Homo sapiens: one gene and its partners. The protein of the gene in region 3 purifies or fractionates together with the protein of the main gene of each other region. This does not show direct contact. Each region holds a gene or a part of one and is shown on either strand. Other genes may lie near its edges.

Region 1 (5,282 bases), on a different chromosome or scaffold from region 3:
TAAAAGGGAGACATGTAAATCCATTTTCAAAGAAATTATCTCTATTTTACTCAGCGTATCCATTTTCTCCACAACTGTTCTTCCCAAGCCTTCCTTAAAAATCGTATCTGTTGCTACCACTCTCTGAAATTGCACTACTGAAAGTTAAAAATAAATGATTAATCATCAAATCTCCTATTTTTTTCTTATAGGTCATGATTTCCTACAATATTTTTCTTTTGATTTACATTAACCTGCCCTTTCCTACCTAAATCCTACCAATCTTTCAATATACATCTCCAATCACACTAGTTCATCTTGATTAATCTTAATTCATCTTAATAGAAACATATACCAATAACATCTTATATAACAAGGAACTAAAAATTCAGAGAGTAAGTCTCATGTCATTTAATATCTGTATTATTTATTGAGACTCTCATACCATAGTAATTGTCACTAACTATGAACCAAGTAGCTTATATACTCTTTGAAAGTAGAAACCTCTTATTTCTTAATGTCTCTGAGCAGATCGTCATGTACACAGTAAGCCTACTGTGCTTATTGAATAAATACATAGATTCTGAAAACATTACCATATAAACTTGCTTAGATTTCATTAAGGTACTTTATTAAAAATATTATAGTTTTGTGTTAAGAATCTCAAATATGTAGAATTATTAAAGGTATCAAAAAATTAATTACTTCATTATATATTATCCTTGCCCTGATTTAGAACAAACTATAATATATATTTTCTTTTTTTCTTGAGACAGAGTCTTGCTCTGTCGCCCAGGCTGGAGCGCAGTGGCACAATCTCGACTCACAGCAACCTCCGCCTCCTGGGTTCAACTGAGCATGTCCAGCTAATTTTTGTATTTTTAGTAGAGACGGGGTTTCACCATGTTGGCCAGGCTGGTCTCGAACTCCTGACCACAAGTGATCTGCCTGCCTCGGCCTCCTGCAGTGCTGGGATTACAGGCGTAAGCCACCATGCCCAGCCATAATACATACTTTCAAACACCTGCATGTTTATATAATTATCTAGCTAGGTACTATAATATATGAAACTATGCTCTAATGAGACTTTCTTCACCAATCTTTAAATGAGTCATAAGAGCCAAGATAACAAGCCACAGTACCCAAAATTACACTTAAGGACTAGGCAGATGGCCGGGCGCGGTGGCTCATGCCTGTAATCCCAGCACTTTGGGAGGCTGAGGCGGGCGGATCACAAGGTCAGGAGATCGACACCATCCTGGCTAACACAGTGAAACCTTGTCTCTACTGAAAATACAATAAAAAAATTAGCCGGGCGTGGTGGCGGGCACCTGTAGTCCCAGCTACTTGGGAGGCTGAGGCAGGAGAATGGCATGAACCTGGGAGGCAGAGCAGTGACCCGAGATTGCGCCACTGCACTCTAGCCTGGGCGACAAGGCGAGACTCCGTTTCAAAAAAAAAAAAAGACTAGGCAGACAACATAATTTTGAATGCTACAGTTACATGTTATAGCTTTAAATTATATAAATTTTAGCTTTTAAATCATATTTTGGGTTATTTTCACTTATTTGTAAATAGTCAAACTATATTTATTGATTTTAAAATGTGGAAAGTATTTTGTTTAATTATTTCTAACATATAAATAAATACAACTGTTCCTGTGCTTTCCAAGTATAACAGAAAGTGATATTTTTAGTAGTATAGAAAGAAATGTTCTTGAATGTTAATATTCAAAAGTACCGTTTTATTCATTTAATCAATGAACAAATAAAAATTTAAATTTTCAAGATAAGGAGAATCATTACCTTTAGAAAGAAATGATTAGCTCCTTACTTTCCATCCCAATGAAAGCAAAGGAAACTGAGACAAACATTCTTTAATTTAAATCTTATATTACCCCAATCATAAATTGTAATTACAAGTATTATCATGACATTTTATATAACCTATAAAACTGTATTATATTATTTTATAAAAATATTTTTAAAATGTTCAGTATATAAGAGAAATGAACACAACTTAAAATCATATGACATATTTAGACATATCACAAGCCAAATCATGTCCTTTTTACTCCTTCGACAAATAACGATAAGTGGTAAAAACCCAACAGAGTATGGTTACCATACAATCTGAGTGTTAGTTCTACTAGTAAAACACTAAGATCATAATGGATGTACATCTTATATAACTAATGTATCATATCTAAAACAGAAAGGTAGAATATCACACCTTATTATTTCCATAGGCCATATCCATTGCTTCTAGAGACAAGGAGCAAAGTGCATTTATTAAATGATGCAGTGATACATCATCAAGATACCTAAAAAGGAAATGAAGAAATAAGACATCTTGATCTAAAATATATAACAAATAACAATGTTTTTATCAATTAAAAAAACTGACTCTTACTGTGAGCTTTCAAACAATCTTGAAAGTATATTGGAAATCACTGGTAAATCTGTCATCACTGCTGTTGTTAGAACCTGAGAAGAATAAAATTAAATGTAATATATGACACTTTGGGATGCACTAATTGGGTAAGAAAGACTAGAGCTTACTGTACTGGGTCCTTCTACAGCTCTCCCAGGTTTCAAGGCACCGCCACTACTAGGCTTTAATCCCAGAATCCACACAAGATGCTGTAAAATTAAAAAAAAATCAAAACAAATAACTTTACAAAAGTATAAAAGGTCCAATAACTAAAATTAAAATCAGTAGTAACTTCTAGCAACCAAAATTAAAATCAGTAGTAGGTTTTTAAAACCTAAAACTAAAATCACTAATTAACATTCATATAAAATAATTAATGATATCGAACATATGCAGCAGAGCTTAGGCCATTATGAGAAGCATTCCACCACTTCCTACAATATGAGTCACATCTTTTTCCCTTTCTAACTTCTCTTTTTTCATACTTACTATCTATTTTTTAGGCCTGTCCAAAACATCAAAATACATTGCTTAGTCTAACTGTTAGCAATTATATATAAAAACAACACTAATCTCTGACCTAGACACTTTTACATACCTGAAGAGTTGCCAAGACAAGTTGCCATGATGTTCCAAGAACAGCCCCATGGCAATGCGCCAAGTTAAGTAAAGTCCTCATACACTGGATATTTTTGGAAGTCAGCTATATTTTAAAAAGGATACATTTTCAATAATTGTTATGTATTCTTAAAAATTAAAAGCTTATAAAGTAGCATTAATGTGTTAAAAGATTTTTTTAAAGAAAAAATTAAGAAAAAGATTTGGAAGGTTTTATAAGGAACAATTCATTTGATTAAAAGTTGTATTATCATATTGGTTACAGTAATGTCAACTGCATAAACTAGTTTCTTCTAGTTTAAGAAAGTAGTTCTAGTAAAAGAAAGTAAATAAATGTATGACACATTTTGGCAAACACAAAGATAGGTACAACAAGTTTCCTTGATAGCTAATTGATAACCAAGAAAAATACAAGTACATTACCATTACTGTCCCTTGAGGCTGGACTGCTAAAGGTTGACCCACTGCCACAACTTGTTGGTGAGATTCACTTGATGGACTTATCATCATAACACTTTGGCCCTGAACGGAATATGCTAGAACACAAAGGAAAGCCTAAATAATTAAAATATATTTTTATATTGCATTTAAAGTAATGTTATATTTAAAGTTTGATTAAACCAAGTTTAGCCATACACTTATTTAAATATCAGTAATACCTAATATCTGTATCAAAACATTTAAAAAACTCATGAGGGGCTGGGCACAGTGGCTCACACCTGTAATCCCAGCCATTTTGGGAGGCTGAGGCAGGCAGATCATTTGAGGTCAGGAGTTCAAGGCCAGCCTGGCCAACATGGTGAAGTCCTGACTCTTCTAAAAATACAAAAATTAGCCAGGTATGTCGATGCACTTCTGTAGTCTCAGCTACTCAGGAGGCTGAGGCAGGAGAATTGCTTGAATTCAGGAGGCGGTGGTTGCAGTGAGCCAAGATCTGGGTCACTGCACTCTAGGCTGAGCGACAGAGTGACTCTGTCTCAAAAAAAAAAAAACAAAAAAACACAAAAACTTCATGAGGTACAAAAACCAAGACAAGTTAAGCAAATATTAAGTAATTTTCTATACAACATAAAATTATATAACTTTGGTAGATTTCTTCATAAGCAATACAGAACTCGAACACATTCTAAGTATTTTAAACATGTATCCCTGGTATGTTTTTTAATTTAGAGAGCAATACATTTTCAGTTTGAAAACTGAGTATTAGCATGTAATAACAACTACTTGGGAGGCTGAGGCCGGACTGCTTTAGCCCAGTTCAAGATCAGCCTGGGCAATATAGCGAGATCCTGTCTCATTAAAAAAGTATAAACAAAAAAACCCTAAATATTACACTGAAATTTATATTACATGTAACAAACAAGTATTCTTAAAGAATTCAACAAGAAAATAAATTTTTGAATGTAAGTTTAACCTAAGTGGTTACAAACATTACTGTTCTACTAGTTCCATTAAAAAAAAATAACAATCACCATTTCAATGGTATCTCATAGTTTACAAAGGACTTCCAGATTTATCTTATTTTCCTCTCACAATTATTGTTTAAAATTGGTATTACAAGTTGAGTATCCCTTATCCGAAATGCTTAGGATCACAACTGTTTCCGATTTCAGATTTTTGAATATTTATATTATATATACTTATGCATTTATTTGCATAATATATTTGTAAATACTTATGTTTGCATTATATACCTATTCACATTATATACTTATCCAATGAGCCTTTCCTTTGTCATGTTGGTGCTCAACAAGTTTTAGATTTTGCAGCATTTTAGATTCTGGATTTTTGGATATCCCATGCCCACCCCCCACCCCCCACCCCATATTTTTAAAGAGCTCTCAGGGACATTAATTTCCCCAAGGTCACACAGTCAGTATGTGAAAAAGCAGAGACTTAAACTCAGATGTTTATAATCTTCTGTCTACACCATATCATCCCACTACATAGAGAGAATTTTGAGTAAGCCTGTCTTACATTTGTTGGAAAGTGTAGCTGCAGTGGTGGTATTCAATACAGTAAGAGCATAATGGGGAGGCAGGGAACCTTTGCATATTGCAGTTATAAAGGCATCTCTTGAAGTTACAAGGCCCAGTCTTCCACAAAGAGCAGCCATAGTCAGTTCAGCTTTTAAAATATTCTCAGTGGCAGCTTCATCTGTGCTGAAAAGAAAGTATTTTATTTAATCTGATTAACTTATTTTTAATTACATTGTAAAGCATGATGTGGAATTAAGTATTCAGTGACATTTT
Region 2 (4,338 bases), on a different chromosome or scaffold from region 3:
GAGCTGCTACCTGGCTGCTACCTTTGTTGCTCAAAGAGCAACCAAGCCACCTTAGGAAAGCTCTTGCCTCTAAAGTAAGGGCAAATAAAACTTCTAGATGTTGGCACCACCTCTCTGTGACATTATAAAACACACACACACAGTCTGTTGCTTTGCATATTGATAAGCTCATATTTTGAAACCTGTGACTATGTCTCTATGATTGCTATGCACATCAACAGATGTCTATATGATCAGAACTTTGACTTTCTCTGCCAGGCCATTTTTATTATCACTTATTAAAGGCTTATTACATACCAGGAAGAATTTTAAGAGCACATGTAACTCATGTAACTCATTTAACTGTCATAATATTTCTGTGCGGTTTTCGTTGTTTTGATGTTATACATAAAGACTCCAAGACACAGTGAAGTTTAGTAACTTGCCAACAGCTACGGAGGCTGCTGGCAGAATCTGTGACCTTATCTGCTGCACTGCACTGCCTCACTGTGCTTTTTTGCTCATGTTCTGCATGTTTTAACAAACTGTCATGCTCTGTTCCTTAGGTCCCATCAGTTTCTTCCAGTGTGTCTACTTGGATGGGTACAATGGCTATGGATTTCAGTTTCCTTTCACTCCTGCAGACCGCCCTGGAGAGAGCTCTGGTCAAGCAAATTCTCCAGGACAGAAGCAACAAGGACAGTAAACACACATGTATGACCCTTACAAGTGCTTTAAGATTTTAAAAATGTGATGTTTTGTCCACAGTAGTTCAGGCAATTAAGAATATGCAACCCAGAGAATTTCTGTGAAAACATTTTGCTCTTTGGCCTGGTGTGGACGGAAAGGGTGGCCAAATGGATTGAGTGATGAGCAGACATGTTTAAGGGTCTAAGTCTCAAGAATCTGTTATGTGTGTTTGCTGCGGTGGGAGGGGGTGCTTGTATTTATCTTATTTCCAGTCACTATAAGGTTGTACACAAACTAATTTAAAGTTTACTTAATAATGGTATCTTTAAAATAATTGACACAATTGCAAAATGAATTCCTGGCTTCAGTTAGCTATTATTTTTTTAATGACAACATAGACTGTGCTCTAAGTTTAAAAGATGGGGAAGCTTATATAAAAGTGACCCTTTTGCATCATATGGGTATCTAAACTTAATTTACCCAATAAGTTGATGCTTAATGATTTTATTTTATTTTTGTCTATTTCTATTTTAGTTGTGGCTTTGCTCTAAGAATGGGTAATAGTTGTACTACAGACTGCTATAAATTTCTTGTGATACTCTTTTAGAGCTCAAAATATCTCTGAGCTTTAGACATGGTAAGGTGGAGAGTAAATGCTTGATAAATCTTTAAGATATGTCTTGAATGATAATTAGGACATTCAGTCCAGTGGAAATACACCATTCAATTAGTCAGGTCTGGTGAATCGTTTGTTTAAAATATTAGCAAATGAGATGTGGAATTCTGAAATTTCTCCAGACTGTGTCTTAATAAAAATGTCACCTGGGTGAAATTTTAGATCAATCACTAAATTTGGGTGACAAATATAAAAATATTTTCATTTCACTTTAATACATTCTTTCTGTGAAGTAAAATGTTTTTCTTTCTCATAATGGCAAAATATGAATGCCATCAAAGTTTAAGGAATTCATTTTAGCCTTAAATGCCTTCGTGAGATGTCTTACTTGTATTTTAGGTAACTGGTCATCAGTGCCAATGACATGGATAACAATTTTTAATCTACTCGACAGTGCATCCCTGGGAATGACTGTTATGTTTTTGTCATATTCCTGGTAATATAAATACTCGTGTTCTTTACTACATTGTTTTTATCAACTCTAAAAGTCATGCCTCTGTGACCTTTATCATGTTTACAATTGCAACTGAACTTATGACAAATTAACTCAGGAAATAAATTGAGTTATCCTTTCTAGCATTGTAATTACCATCAGCAAGGCCTGAGATAGCCAGAGCCAATACTAGCCAAGTGATTTATTTTCAAGGATTGCCACTAACTACGGTTCTTTAGGACCAAGATATAAAACAGTCACTAAAAATCATTAGGCTAGGTATCAGTAATACATTCATTACTAATAATGCATTTTTGGAGACTTTTGTGAAAGAAGTTGGTCTCTGCCAAAAGCTGGTGGACCACATTCACACCACGAAAGCCAGTGTCACATGAACCAGATTAATGACTCTCTTTATGGGGTATGTGGGACATCCTGGAAGTGTATAATTTCAGGAATGACCAGACAATACCATCTTGCAAAGCCCCTTCAGGTGACAATCTAAACTTGTGGGTAGGAGAGTGCATAAAGTTTATTGCTCAACTGCTCCTCCAGCCTGCTGAATTTACTGAGTAAAGAAATAGCAAATATGATAGATGTTTTAGATTTCATAGAACAGAATGGTTTGTCCATTAATTCTTTCATTCAATGACTGTTTATTGAATACCTACTCTTTTAGGGCGCTGTGTTAGGTGCTGTATTGTACAAGAAAAATATAATAAATTAGATTCCCAGCGCTATTCTGACATAGTGAATGACCTTGAAAAATTTACTAAACATACTATGTTTGTTTCTCCATGAGTAAAATAGGGATATAGGGACAAACAGTCTAATATCTCATAGAAATACCATGGAGACAAATAAAATATTTTAATATAAATATGATATTAAAGTAAATTTCTGAAGTAATACTTTTGGGTATGGCACTAGTTTTTCCTCTGACTATTTTACTGTTTCTTTCACTCTCAATATAAAAACTATTTGATAAGATAAAACGATATATTTTATTGTAATTAGAATTTAGACAAATCAGCTATAATGTAAAAATGTTAATAATAATTACGTTTTATCTGATTAAAGTTACAATGATCATAGCACTTTAAAAATATTATCTGAACTGTCATTTGTTTATATATTACCGTCTAATAAAATAGTTATAGATCTTCCAAGTTTGATGCCTTACATTTTAAAAGGAAAAGATAAATGGTTGATTAAGAATCTTTGTCTTTAATGGTTCATTCATAATTCAAGTTATACTGGCCAGGAATATGTAAGCATTTCATAATTGTTTTAGTTATTTTGCACAATTGGTACACACTACTCCCATTACATCCCTGCGTTTACCCACCCTTCATCCCCTCTTAATAGATAAAGATCTGAAAATAAGAATCGATTTTTCCTTAGGTTTTTGATTTATATTTAGTTTTCCTAAAGCCTGATAAATCATTATTCAAATGGGGCAAGTGTTTTTTTGTTTCTTTTTTTTTTTTAATGAACCCTAGCAAAAGCACCTGTATGTTGACTCATTCTGGCATATCTTTTCAAAACCTTTTAACTTCTTGCAGAAATATTTTAGAAACTGGTATTGTGATACTGTGTATTTTAGAGATTTAACTTGTACCCTTGAGTAATTTTTCTGGAGAAAAAAGCAAAGGAGATAACAAATATTGCTGATAGAAAACTCAGTGACCATATAAGCCAAGTGGCACATACAGAAAATGAAACTAATCCTTAGAGAAACTTGAAAATTTGCCCAAAGTAACTGACTACTTCAAAACCAGGCCTAGAACCTTGATCAGCTAACTCCCAAATGTTCTTCAGTTTTCAGGGTGTTATTACAAATATTGACTTATTTTTCCAGTATCCTCAAATCCATCTTGCAAATTATACTTGGTGATAGACATGTAACCCTCTATGAAAAGACTTGTCTTTTTTCCTACTTGAAAGCTGAAAAGTGCCTTAAGAGTGTGTTGCATTCAATTGCTTTACAGTAAAGAAAATAAATGTCAGAGAGGTTAGGTGGCAGGCCTAGAGGCACATTGTTAGTAAGCAGCAGAACAAATGCGATTGAAAGCTCGAATCTTTTTCTAATCCTATTCATATCCTTCCTGCCCTTTGTAACTCCATATGATATCGTCACCATCATAAAAGCTTCCCTTTGTTACTTGCAAACTAATTAAGAAATAGAAACTCAGCACGACTTCCCAGTAGCTGGCCTCCTTGCAGCATTTTTTGCCCCACTCCTTTCAGGATTATATCAGCTCTATCCTGTACCTTTCCTTTCCCCCTCATTAATCATATATGTCCATGAAACATTTAGTTATTACTGTAGATGCTTTCCTTTGTGTGTAAAATAAAGACCTTTATTTTCCCAAACTATCCAACTATTGAAAAATCATTAGTCGTTAAAAAAAATGTGGCCCAAATAACAAGAAAGCAAAAACAACTTTTTTAAATTCAGCTTTTCCGAAGATTCAGGTTAATAAAATAAGAAAGACAAATAATTGTAAAACACACTTGAACTCTAAAGAAGAGCTCAGAATAATTGATGAAGTGAATT
Region 3 (5,882 bases):
CTCCCTCTGTCGCCAGGCTGGAGTGCAGTGGCACAATTTCGGCTCACCACAACCTCCGACTCCCTGGTTCAAGCGATTCTCCTGCCTCAGCTTCCCAAGTAGCTGGGAATACAGGCACGCGCCACCATGCCCAGCTAATTTTTTTTTTTTTTTTTGAGACAGAAGTTTGCTTTTGTCCCCAAGACTGGGGTGCAATGGTGTGATCTCAGCTCACTGCAACCTCCGCCTCCCAAGTTCAAGCGATTCTCCTGCCTCAGCCTCCCAATTAGCTGGGATTATAGGGTTGTGCCACCATACCTGGCTAATTTTTGTGTTTTTAGTAGAGACGGGGTTTCACTACATTGGCCAGGATAGCCTCAATCTCCTGACCTCGTGATCCGCCCGCCTCGGCCTCCCAAAGTGCTGGGCTCACAGGCGTGAGACACCTCGCCCAGCCTTTTTTTTTTTTTTTTTTTTAAACAGAGTCTTGCTCTGTCACCCAGGCTTGTGCCACCACACCCGGCTAATTTTTGTATTTTTAGTAGAGACGGAGTTTCACCATGCTGGCCAGGCTGATCTGGCCTCCATCTCCTGTGCTTAAATGATCCACCCACCTCCGCCTCCCAAAGTGCTGAGATTACAGGCATGAGCCACTGAGCTCGGCCCATAATGTTTTTAAAAAGTATATCTGGAGATATTGACACAATTATGAATGCAGGCTGTAACACTTAGTAATATGGTCAATAAATTATTTTGCAATTTCAAAGTATCATTACAAAACTAATTTAAAAAGCAGCCGGGCGCGGTGGCTCATGCCTGTAATCCCAGCACTTTGGGAGGCCGAGGCGGGCGGATCACGGGATCGAGAGATCGAGACCATCCTGGCTACACAGTGAAACCCTGTCTCTACTAAAAATACAAAAAAATTAGCCGGGCATGGTAGCCGGCGCCTGTAGTCCCAGCTACTTGGGAGGCTGAGGCAGGAGACTGGCGTGAACCTGGGAGGCGGAGTTTGCAGTGAGCCGAGATCGCGCCACTGCACTCCAGCCTGGGCGAGAGCGAGACTCCGTCTCAAAAAAAAAAAAAAAAAAAAAGAAAAAACTAATATAAAAAGCTGTTGAATTTCTAAACGCATTTCCAATTGACCTTTATCAATTGCCAATAGTTTTCAAAGTGACAAATGCTGAAATTTCTAACGTTACTTTGGAATAAGCAAATATCTCTCTTTGTTATAGATCATCTGTAAAACTAATGCCATATTGAAGAAAGCCAAAGTTATAAAACTAAATTTGTGAAACAGCCCTTTATTCTTTCCTTTTCTCTTTCTAGGATGGGTTGAATTAGTACTAAATTTGGGTTTCATAAGGGCGAATTTATCTTTGAAATGGATTTTCCTCCCATCAGGTAGTCTTAATTGCTTTATAAAAATCTAAAATCTAACACAGGTTTTTAAAAAGTAAATTTTTCAAGCAGTTCATTTCCTGATGTTCGGCCCAAAAGTAAACACTGAGTATATACATTTACTTCAAATTAAAAACTGACGACCGGAAAGCATACTTTTAAAGGTAATGTCCTTGTGGAAAAAGAATTAAGAATCACGAGAACGGAACTGCTATTTGCTACCTCTGGTTTTCCGTTCACAGAAGCACGAGGAGCCCAGCGCTGCGGCTCTGCCTCGCTGGGCCACCCCTTTCGGGCACGACCGGGAGCGGGTGCTCCTCACACCGAGCGCCCGGGCGAGCACAGCTGCAGCCTGCGGATGGAGCCCAGAGCCCTGCCCTGCAGATGACGCGCCGCTGCAGCTTCGCCCACCCTCCCACAAAATGGCTGCGGGTGGCGCCAGGGATGCTGGGCGCGCGCTCCTTGGAACTAGAGAGGAGGTGGCCGGGGCGGGGCCGGGGGAGGGGGGTAGGGCAGAGCCGGCGGGAGCCCGGCGCTGATTGGCCGGCCTGGCTGGCGGGCCCCCGCCGCTGGTTCGTAGCCGGCGCAGCGGCCTGGGCTGGGATGTGAGGAGCGGCGGGTTCCGGGCTCCGGGCTCTGGGTGGCGGCGGCTGTGAGCGGCGGCACTGCGGCGCAGGCCAGCGGGCGCCGTCGGCGGCTGGCCCTGTCGGCCGCGGGATGAGGAAGCGGACCGAGCCCGTCGCCTTGGAGCATGAGCGCTGCGCCGCCGCGGGCTCGTCCTCCTCCGGCTCGGCCGCCGCGGCGCTGGACGCCGACTGCCGCCTGAAGCAGAACCTACGCCTGACGGGCCCGGCGGCGGCTGAGCCGCGCTGCGCAGCCGACGCGGGAATGAAGCGGGCGCTGGGCAGGTGAGGCTTCGCGCGGAGCGGGGGGGGGGGGGGGGCCGGTCCCTCACTTTGCGCAGGTGCGTCCCGCAGGGGGCCGCGGTACCTCCCAGCCCCTCCCAGAGTGGCCGTCCGCCCGATCCGCGGCCGCCCCCGTCCGCGCCTGTGTCCCGCATTTGGCCCGCGGCAGCCCCACCCCCGCTCCCTTCCCCAGGCACCGCGGCGGGAGCGCCCTGCCCTGCCGCTGACCCCCTGTGTCCTGCTCCGGCCCTCTCGCCAGGCACTCCTGGCCTAGCCTTGCACCCCGACCCTTTCCCGGGGAAGCCGGGGGGACCCTTACGCTGGGGGCTTGGCGCCGCCCGAAGTCATGACCCCGCGTGGGAGAGCAGGGTAGGGGGTGGGGAGTCCTTGGAAGATCCCTGGACGCCAGGCACAGCAGAGGCGGGAGGCAGAGGGGCCGGCGCCAGACCCTGAGAGCGCTGGGGCCCACTCGGACCTCCTCCTCCTGCTCTGCATCAGGCCCCACACCGAGCGCCCGGGCGGGCGCCCCTCGGGCTGGGCTGCGTGCGCGGAGCCTTACTGGCGCCTTGGGCCCTCGGCGGCTCTCCCCGGTAACTAGGGTCGGGGGCGTGCGTCGCTCAGAACTCGGGGACCTTTGGGGAAGGGCTCAGTGGGCGGCGGGGTGCTAGGGGAAGGAGGGACTCGGAGCATCGCAGCCGTCGGAGGGAAACCTGCCCTTCGCTCTGCTGGTGATGGTTCGTGGTACTTGAAATCTGTCCGCACAAGTTCGCCTCCTTGGGAATCATCTCGCAGTCCTGAGTCGTTTGGTTATTGGCGTTCAATAACCTTTGGGTTATTGGGTAGAAGATGAATGCGTTTATATAAAGCCACTTTCAAAACTGAGATGGGAACGTGTTTCATAGGGACAGATTTCTCCTCCCATCTGCTGGTTTCCTAATTATCTGGCTGTTGTAGAACGTAGCATTCCTGACAGCTTTGAAGCCTTGCTACTTCGTGGTGGTTTGAAGAAGTTACTATATGATGATCTCAGGCGTTGTAGCAGAGGCACTTCTTTTTTGACCATCTGGAATGCCCTTAGTTGACGCTGGCCACTTGAGTGTAAAATATGCGTATCGCTCCTAAGGAAAAGTAGAATTTCAACTTCATTGCTTAAAAAAATCATGAAATTAAACTATAGACACTTCTAAGTCGATGGTTTGACAGAAGGGCGGAGACTGATAGTTTTGTGTCTTTATGTGTAAAATTATGTAGCATCTGATCAATATCTTTTGTGAAACTAATCTGTTCTCTTTGCTATGGAAAGATTTATCTGCATTAAAAACTCATGATTTAACTTTAATACAATTTTATTAACAGACATGGCATAACGCTTAGATAAATTGGAAAATTCTTCCTTCGAAAAAATCAAATTGCCGGGCGCGGTGGCTCACGCCTGTAATGCCAGCACTCTGGGAGACCGAGGCGGGCAGATTATCAGAGGTCAGGAGTTCGAGACCAGCTTGACCAACATGGAGAAACCCCGTCTGTACTAAAAATACAAAATTAGCCGGGCGTGGTGGCGCATATGCCTGTAATCCCAGCTACTCGGGAGGCTGAGGCGGGAGAATCGCTTGAATCTGGGAGGCGGAGGTTGCGGTGAGCCAAGATCTCGCCGAACCGAGATCGCACCAGTGCACTCCAGCCTGGACAACAAGAACGGAACTCCGTCTCAAAAAAAAAAAAAAAAAAGAAAAAATCAAATTGTTTTACACAACGTTTGGGGAAACAGCGGCGACCTGGCACCTTCTTGAAGAATGTACTGTATTAAAATTACCCGATTAATTTTTATTTTCGTGTCAGGACAAAGAGAGACATTCCAGTGGTGTCCATATCCTTTGGATAAGCAAAAGGCTGTTAGGGGTAAAAAGCAAAACAAAGGGAAAGAAGACCAAATTTGTTAGGTTGTCTTCCTTCCCAGCTGGCTGTCTCAGACATCCTTGAGCTTTCTTCTCTTCCTCGCTCAGGCTCTGCGCCACCATCACCTCCTCCTCACTGAGGCCTTCTTAGACCAGCCCACTCCTGTCGACCTTGTTATCACTCGAGATTGTAATTTTTGCTCGTGTGCCTCCCCCGCAACCAGAATGGAAGCGCCATGAGAACAGGAGCTTTGTTTTCTCCACTTAAGTATCTCCAGTACCTGGCACGTAGTAGGTAGCAGAAAATACTTGTTGAATGAACAAATATCCATAGAACAGATATCCATTGCGCCACAGAGCCGGCTCGTTTGTGTCTTTTATGATCCTTCTTTGGATCCTTCCGCACATTTTTTAAACTCTTTATTGTCGACATACGTGGAAGTAGAGAAGACAATCTAATGAGCCTTCTTCATGTGTCCATCACTTAAAAGTTTTCAGTGTTTAGCCAATTTTGAATCATCCATCCCTCTTCTCTTTTTTTTTGTAGGATGAAGGATTGGATTTTTTTTTTTTTTTTTTTTTGAGAAGGAGTCTCGCTTTGTCGCCCAGGCTGGAGTGCAGTGGCAATCTCGGCTCACTGCAACCTCCACCTCCCAGGTTCAAGCAATTCTCCTGCCCCAGCCTCCTGAGTAGCTGGGATTACAGGCGCCCGTCACCGTGCCTGGCTAACTTTTGTAGTTTTAGTAGAGACGGGGTTTCACCATGTTGGCCAGGCTGGTCTCGAACTCGTGACCTCGTGATCCACCCACCTCGGCCTCCCAAATTGCTGGGATTACAGGCGTGAGCCACAGCGCCCGGCCTGGAATATTTTTAAACAATTTTTTTTTTAAGAAAGTTCCGTCACCCAGGCTGGAGCACAGTGGCATGATCATGGCCCACTGCAGCCCAGACCTCCTGGGCTCAGGCGATCCTCCCATATCGATGCTGGGTGTATGCCACCACTCCTGGTTAATTTTTTTTTTTTTTTTTTAATAGAGATGAAGTCTCACTATGTTGCCCCCAGGCTGGTCTTGAATTTCTGGCTTCAAGCGATCCTTCTTCCTGGCCTCCCAAAGTGTTAGGTATGAAATACCGTGCCAGGCCTAAATTCTCCTGCCTCAGCCTCCCGAGAAGGTGGGATTACAGGCATGTGCCACCACACATGGCTAATTTTTGTATTTTTTGTAGAGATGGGGTTTCACCATGTTGGCCAGACTGGTCTCCAACTCGTGACTTCAAGTGATCTCCCTGTCACGGCCTCCCAAAGTGTTGGGATTACAGGTGTGAGCCACCATGTCTGACCTCTTTTTCTTTTCTGATTGCATTGTATTTCTAGAACAAAGTTAAATAATAGGGATGACACTGAGTAACTTGTTTCATTCCTGACTTTAATGAGAATGCTGTTAGTGTTTTTGCCATTTAAGTGCCATGCTGGGGTGTGTTGCTAATGTTGTGGGGAGCTTTTTGTTTTTGTTCCTGCTCCCTCACTGATGTTTTTAAAATAAAAAATGGTGATTGAGTTTTCTCAAATGCCAGTGTACATCTGTGGAATGATCATAGAGATTTTCTTCTTTTATCTGTTAACATAATGAGTTATAGTAATGGATTTATATTATTGAATCATCATTGTATTCCTGGGATAAACTCTCTTATTGTATAGCCA
Region 4 (4,587 bases), on a different chromosome or scaffold from region 3:
ATTCTGAATACCTGACATAGTAGAATATTGGATTCTTGCATAAACCCTTGACGTTCACAACATGTTTGTTTAGTGGGCAGTGAAAATTGTTAACCTGGCTTATTATTAAAAGGAAAAATACAGGTTTCTGAAAGGATTTCTTGCTTGATGTCACCCAGGTAACCATGCTAGGAGACAGATCTGATATTAAAATTCCTTCAGCTAGCTGGATTACAAACCTTCTAGGGTTGCTGACCTCTGAAATCCAGGTGATTTTGATAATTTGGAGTTTAGTGATATACAATCAGGTTTTCCAGACCTGTGTTTTTTTTGTTTTTGTTTTTTTGTTTTTCACCTCTGCCCAAATTCTTACAGAATTTGGTCATAAGTGCTTTCTCCTGAGTGATAGGATGGGAAGGAAGAGATTTAAGAACTGGAAACACTGAGAGGATTACACATCTGTTGAGCACAAACTCCAGGGCTTGATTTTTGTCAGGTTCTGTTCTGGACTTGAAAACACATTCAGTCATGATTTGTGCCTTTAAGGAGTCACTACCTGTGCATGGGCAATCCTTCTTTAAGTCTGGAAAGGATGGTGATTAAAGTAGATGGAGTATCAGGTTCTCAGCTTACCTGGGCTCTTTCTTTCACGCACTTGTGGGACTCATTGAGAGTTATTTTATTCACTCATTGACTCATTTATTACCCTTGAACTGCTTATTTGTTCCACGTTAAAGGAAACAAGGAATTAGGAATCTGGGTTTTATTCCCACTCATACCACAAACTGATTGTGTGACTAAGTGGGCAATTTGACTGCTCCTTACCTGAGTTCATACGTTTGTAAAATGCACATCATAATTCTTGCCCTAACTGACTGTATTGGTTACTTTTGAGAATCAAGTGAGAAAAATGGATATTATAGCATTTTGGCAAATATTTAATGTACCCCTATGAGACAGTATTATTGTTTTTAGGCCGGTGGTTCTAAACTTCAGTATGAGTAATGATCCTTAGAGAATATATGAAAATGCTTATTACTGAGCCTACATTCACAGATTCTGAGGGTCTGTGACCCAGGAATCTGCATTTTAAGAGGCACTTCAAGTAATTATGATGCAAATGGTCCAAGAATTCCACTGAAAAATACTGGTGTGTCTGCAGAATATTGGGGAATTCCTCAGCAAGGTGTCTGTTTTCGGGATGATCTGGGGGCCCTCATCTTGAAGCCTTTGCCTTGGGTTTATCTGTACATACTCAGAAGGGATTTCTCTTATTTCTCATGTTTGTCTGCATGCCATGCAAGGGGCTTACACTCAATAGGTGCTTAGTGGAAATGTGCTGGCCTGCCCTACGTGCAGAAAACCATGATTCTGCAGGTGAATGGGCTGGAGTGTAAGCAGTCTTTTATTTTCTTTTTTTAAATAGCAATGCAGAGTCCTCAGAGAAGAGATTCAGAATGAACAGCTTTGTGTCAGACTTTGGAAGACCTCTGGAGCCAGATAAAGTATTTTCTCGCCAAGGCAACGAGGAGTCCAGGTCTCTCTTTCACTGCTACATCAATGAGGTGGAACGCTTGGACAGAGCCAAAGCTTGTCACCAGACCACAGCCCTTGACAGTGACGTCCAACTCCAGGAAGCCATCAGAAGCAGTGGGCAGCCAGAGGAGGAGCTGAACAGGCTCATGAAGTTTGACATCCCCAACTTTGTGAACACAGACCAGAACTACTTTGGGGAGGATGATCTTCTGATTTCTGAACCACCTATTGTTCTGGAAACTAAGCCACTTTCCCAGACCTCACACAAAGACCTGGATTGAGAAACATGCTCTGTAAAGGGTCTTCCTGAAGATGTGGATTCTATCTTTATGTAGCAAGAAATCTACATCCACCAAAATTGTGTGTGTTTGGGGGAGAGAGAGACATAGAGATAGAGACAGAGAGGCAGAGAAGAGACCCCTTTAGAAGAGAGCTGAGCTGATTAAGCTGAGTGGTTTTTTGTTTTGTTTTGTTTTTGCTTTTTAATACATTTGGAGCTTTGGGAGTATTAAAGTATTTACACCAAGCTTGTCCAACCCGTGGCATGTGTCCCAGGACAGCTTTGAATGTGGCCCAATACAAATTTTAAACTTTATTAAAACATGAGTTTTGTTTTTTTTTTTGCTATTTTTTTTAAAGCTCGTCAGCTATCGTTAGTGTTAGTGTACTTTATGTGTGGCCCAAGACAACTCTTCTTCCAGTGTGGCACAGGGAAGCTAAAAGATTGGACACCTCTGATTTATACTAGCTCGTTTTGCTTGTTGAAAAATTTGGCCAAATACCTATTGTCAGCATTCTTGGGTGAGGATTAGCCTACCATGTTCTAATCTGGCCCTGCCACTACTATGCTCTACCTTTGGTGAGTTGCTTTACCTCTCTGGGCTGCCCCATTTTTAACTGTAGGTTGACAGGTCTAGAGTGATCCATCCCACCTCTAATATTTTGTGAATTTATGACTTTGCCTTCAGATGAGGCTGAGCTATACATAAAACAGTATAAACTAGGGTACTGCCTCGTATCTCTTGTAGGCTCTCTCAAATCTCTGTACCTTCCACTTAACCCTAATTGAGCCAAGCTTTAGTCAGGGGATCTGGTTGTCTACCAGAATGTCAGGAGACTCATCTTACACAGTCATGGTGGCCAATGTTTCTGGTGGGTTGTGCTGAAACAGCTCTTCTGAGAACTTCCAACCACCCATGCTCTAACCTGGAGACAGCCATCCCCTGCCTCAGAATAAGTACCAATTCGTAGTACATGTATGGTACTCTTGTCCCCAAGAAATGTTAGGAAGCTTGTCAGCTGAATGAGAGGAGGTGCCTTCTGGGTATCTCTGTGTTGGTGTATCTGTGCCATTGGCTACAGAACAAGAAAAATACTATTTGCCATGCTATTACCTTGGCAGATGTGTAGGTGATAGTCATCTGGCTTTGAGCTGAGATGGTCAGTGGGTTGTAAATTCCCCACTAGCAGATATTCAGGGTGGCCTGAGTTATGTAAACAAGTGAGCAACACAGCTTTAATTTCATGGAGGAATCAAAGCTGCACACTGGTATTAAAACAACTTGATTTTGCGCACACAGTTGCATGCATGGCAAGCTGTTAACCTCTGGGTGGCATTTTCATTATGAATTTGTTCACCACCTGTCTTGCTTAAGCTACAAAATAAATGCATTTGACTGCACAGAAATTTCCTCTGGTTCTTTATTTTCACACATCCAATTTTTTGTTTCCCAAAAAGTTGTACCATGTTTATAATGTCTCCTAACTTCTTGGAGTAGGCAGTGCTGACTGTACCATCTCTGGGATTCTGGTGATCTGAGCCATGCATGAGATTTAGGGATTATTTCGCTAAAAGAAATCCCTTTTCTATTGTGTATTTTAAAGAAAATATCATTCTTTAAGACTCTAAATAGTAAAACAAAGCATGGAATTTTTTTGTAATTAAAGCTACTTTAACATATTTTTTATAAATAGATGCTATTTTCATGAATTTTTTATGCAAGAGAGCAAGAGTATTAAAGAATGCTGAGTTTGTTAACTTTTTTTTTTTTTTTTTTTTTTTGAGAGACGGAGTCTTGCTCTGTCGCCCAGGCTGGATGGCTCACTGCAGCCTCCCCTCCTGGGTTCAAGTGATTCTCCTGCCTCAGCTTCCCAAGTTGCTGGGACTACAGGCACGTGCCACCACGCCTAGCTAATTTTTGTATTTTTTAGTAGAGACGAGATTTCACTATATGTTGGCCAGGCTGGTCTCGAACTCCTGACCTCAAGTTATCTGCCTGCCTTGGCCTCCCAAAGTGCTGGGATTGCAGGTATGAGCCACCATGCCTGGCCAGAGTTTAACTTCTAATATGAGTATGATTATTCATAATTTATTTAATGAAATATAAATCATGGGCTATTATTAAAGTTCACAGCTACTTAAGTGGTATCTTATTTAGAAGTAGATTTATTGATCAGAAGATTGAAAGATACTTAAACGTCAGACAAATACCCATGACTATATCATCATTTTTATGAACTAAATGTTAAGAACTGTGAATGGTCCAAGATTTTGCCCCTTCTGCAAATCAGCTTGCCATAGTCTCATGGATGCTGCCAGAAGACACAAGAGTCTTGGGTCAGAGACAAAAATCTTCATTACAGCACAGCAGGCCACATATGCTTCATGCTCATGTTGGTTCCTGAGTTTGTTTCCTACTGCTGTTGTAACGAATTACCACAAATTTAGTGACTTAGAGCAACACAAATTTATTCTCTTCCAGTTCTAGAGTAGACAAGTCTAAAATCAGTTTCAGTGGGCTAAAATCAAGGTGTTAGCACAGCAGCATTCCATCTGGAGGCTCTCAGGATTAATCAGTTTTCTTGCCTTTTCTATCTTCCAGGGGTTGCTCCCACTCTGTGGCTCCTCTTCTTCCACTTTACATCTCTGTCTTTAACCATCCTGCTTCTCTCTTATAAGGACCTTTGTGATTACATTGGGTTACCTAAGATGATCTCCCCATCTTGAGATCCTTCATTTAATCACATCTGTAAAGTGTGTGCCTTTTGCCACATAAGGCTACATATTGACAG

The links. The genes of interacting proteins can lie anywhere in the genome.
Region 1: the proteins of ABHD12 (region 3) and MON2 purify together in Homo sapiens (affinity purification with mass spectrometry; one large-scale study listed by BioGRID and IntAct). This does not show direct contact.
Region 2: the proteins of ABHD12 (region 3) and TRDN purify together in Homo sapiens (co-immunoprecipitation; one large-scale study listed by IntAct). This does not show direct contact.
Region 4: the proteins of ABHD12 (region 3) and MRAP2 purify together in Homo sapiens (co-immunoprecipitation; one large-scale study listed by IntAct). This does not show direct contact.

Annotation. Positions count from the first base shown.
Region 1 is NC_000012.12:62,535,435-62,540,716, reverse strand, and holds part of MON2 (protein MON2 homolog), read right to left. Parts: intron 5,193-5,282; coding exon 5,008-5,192; intron 3,567-5,007; coding exon 3,454-3,566; intron 3,116-3,453; coding exon 3,011-3,115; intron 2,622-3,010; coding exon 2,541-2,621; intron 2,466-2,540; coding exon 2,392-2,465; intron 2,303-2,391; coding exon 2,212-2,302; intron 1-2,211. UniProt on the Homo sapiens protein: Plays a role in regulating membrane trafficking of cargo proteins. Together with ATP9A and DOP1B, regulates SNX3 retromer-mediated endosomal sorting of WLS away from lysosomal degradation.
Region 2 is NC_000006.12:123,214,948-123,219,285, reverse strand, and holds the end of TRDN (triadin), read left to right. Parts: intron 1-545; coding exon 546-685; 3' UTR 686-2,947; downstream 2,948-4,338. UniProt on the Homo sapiens protein: Contributes to the regulation of lumenal Ca2+ release via the sarcoplasmic reticulum calcium release channels RYR1 and RYR2, a key step in triggering skeletal and heart muscle contraction.
Region 3 is NC_000020.11:25,386,919-25,392,800, reverse strand, and holds the start of ABHD12 (lysophosphatidylserine lipase ABHD12), read left to right. Parts: upstream 1-1,965; 5' UTR 1,966-2,097; coding exon 2,098-2,288; intron 2,289-5,882.
Region 4 is NC_000006.12:84,087,686-84,092,272, forward strand, and holds the end of MRAP2 (melanocortin-2 receptor accessory protein 2), read left to right. Parts: intron 1-1,405; coding exon 1,406-1,796; 3' UTR 1,797-3,196; downstream 3,197-4,587. UniProt on the Homo sapiens protein: Modulator of melanocortin receptor 4 (MC4R), a receptor involved in energy homeostasis. Plays a central role in the control of energy homeostasis and body weight regulation by increasing ligand-sensitivity of MC4R and MC4R-mediated generation of cAMP.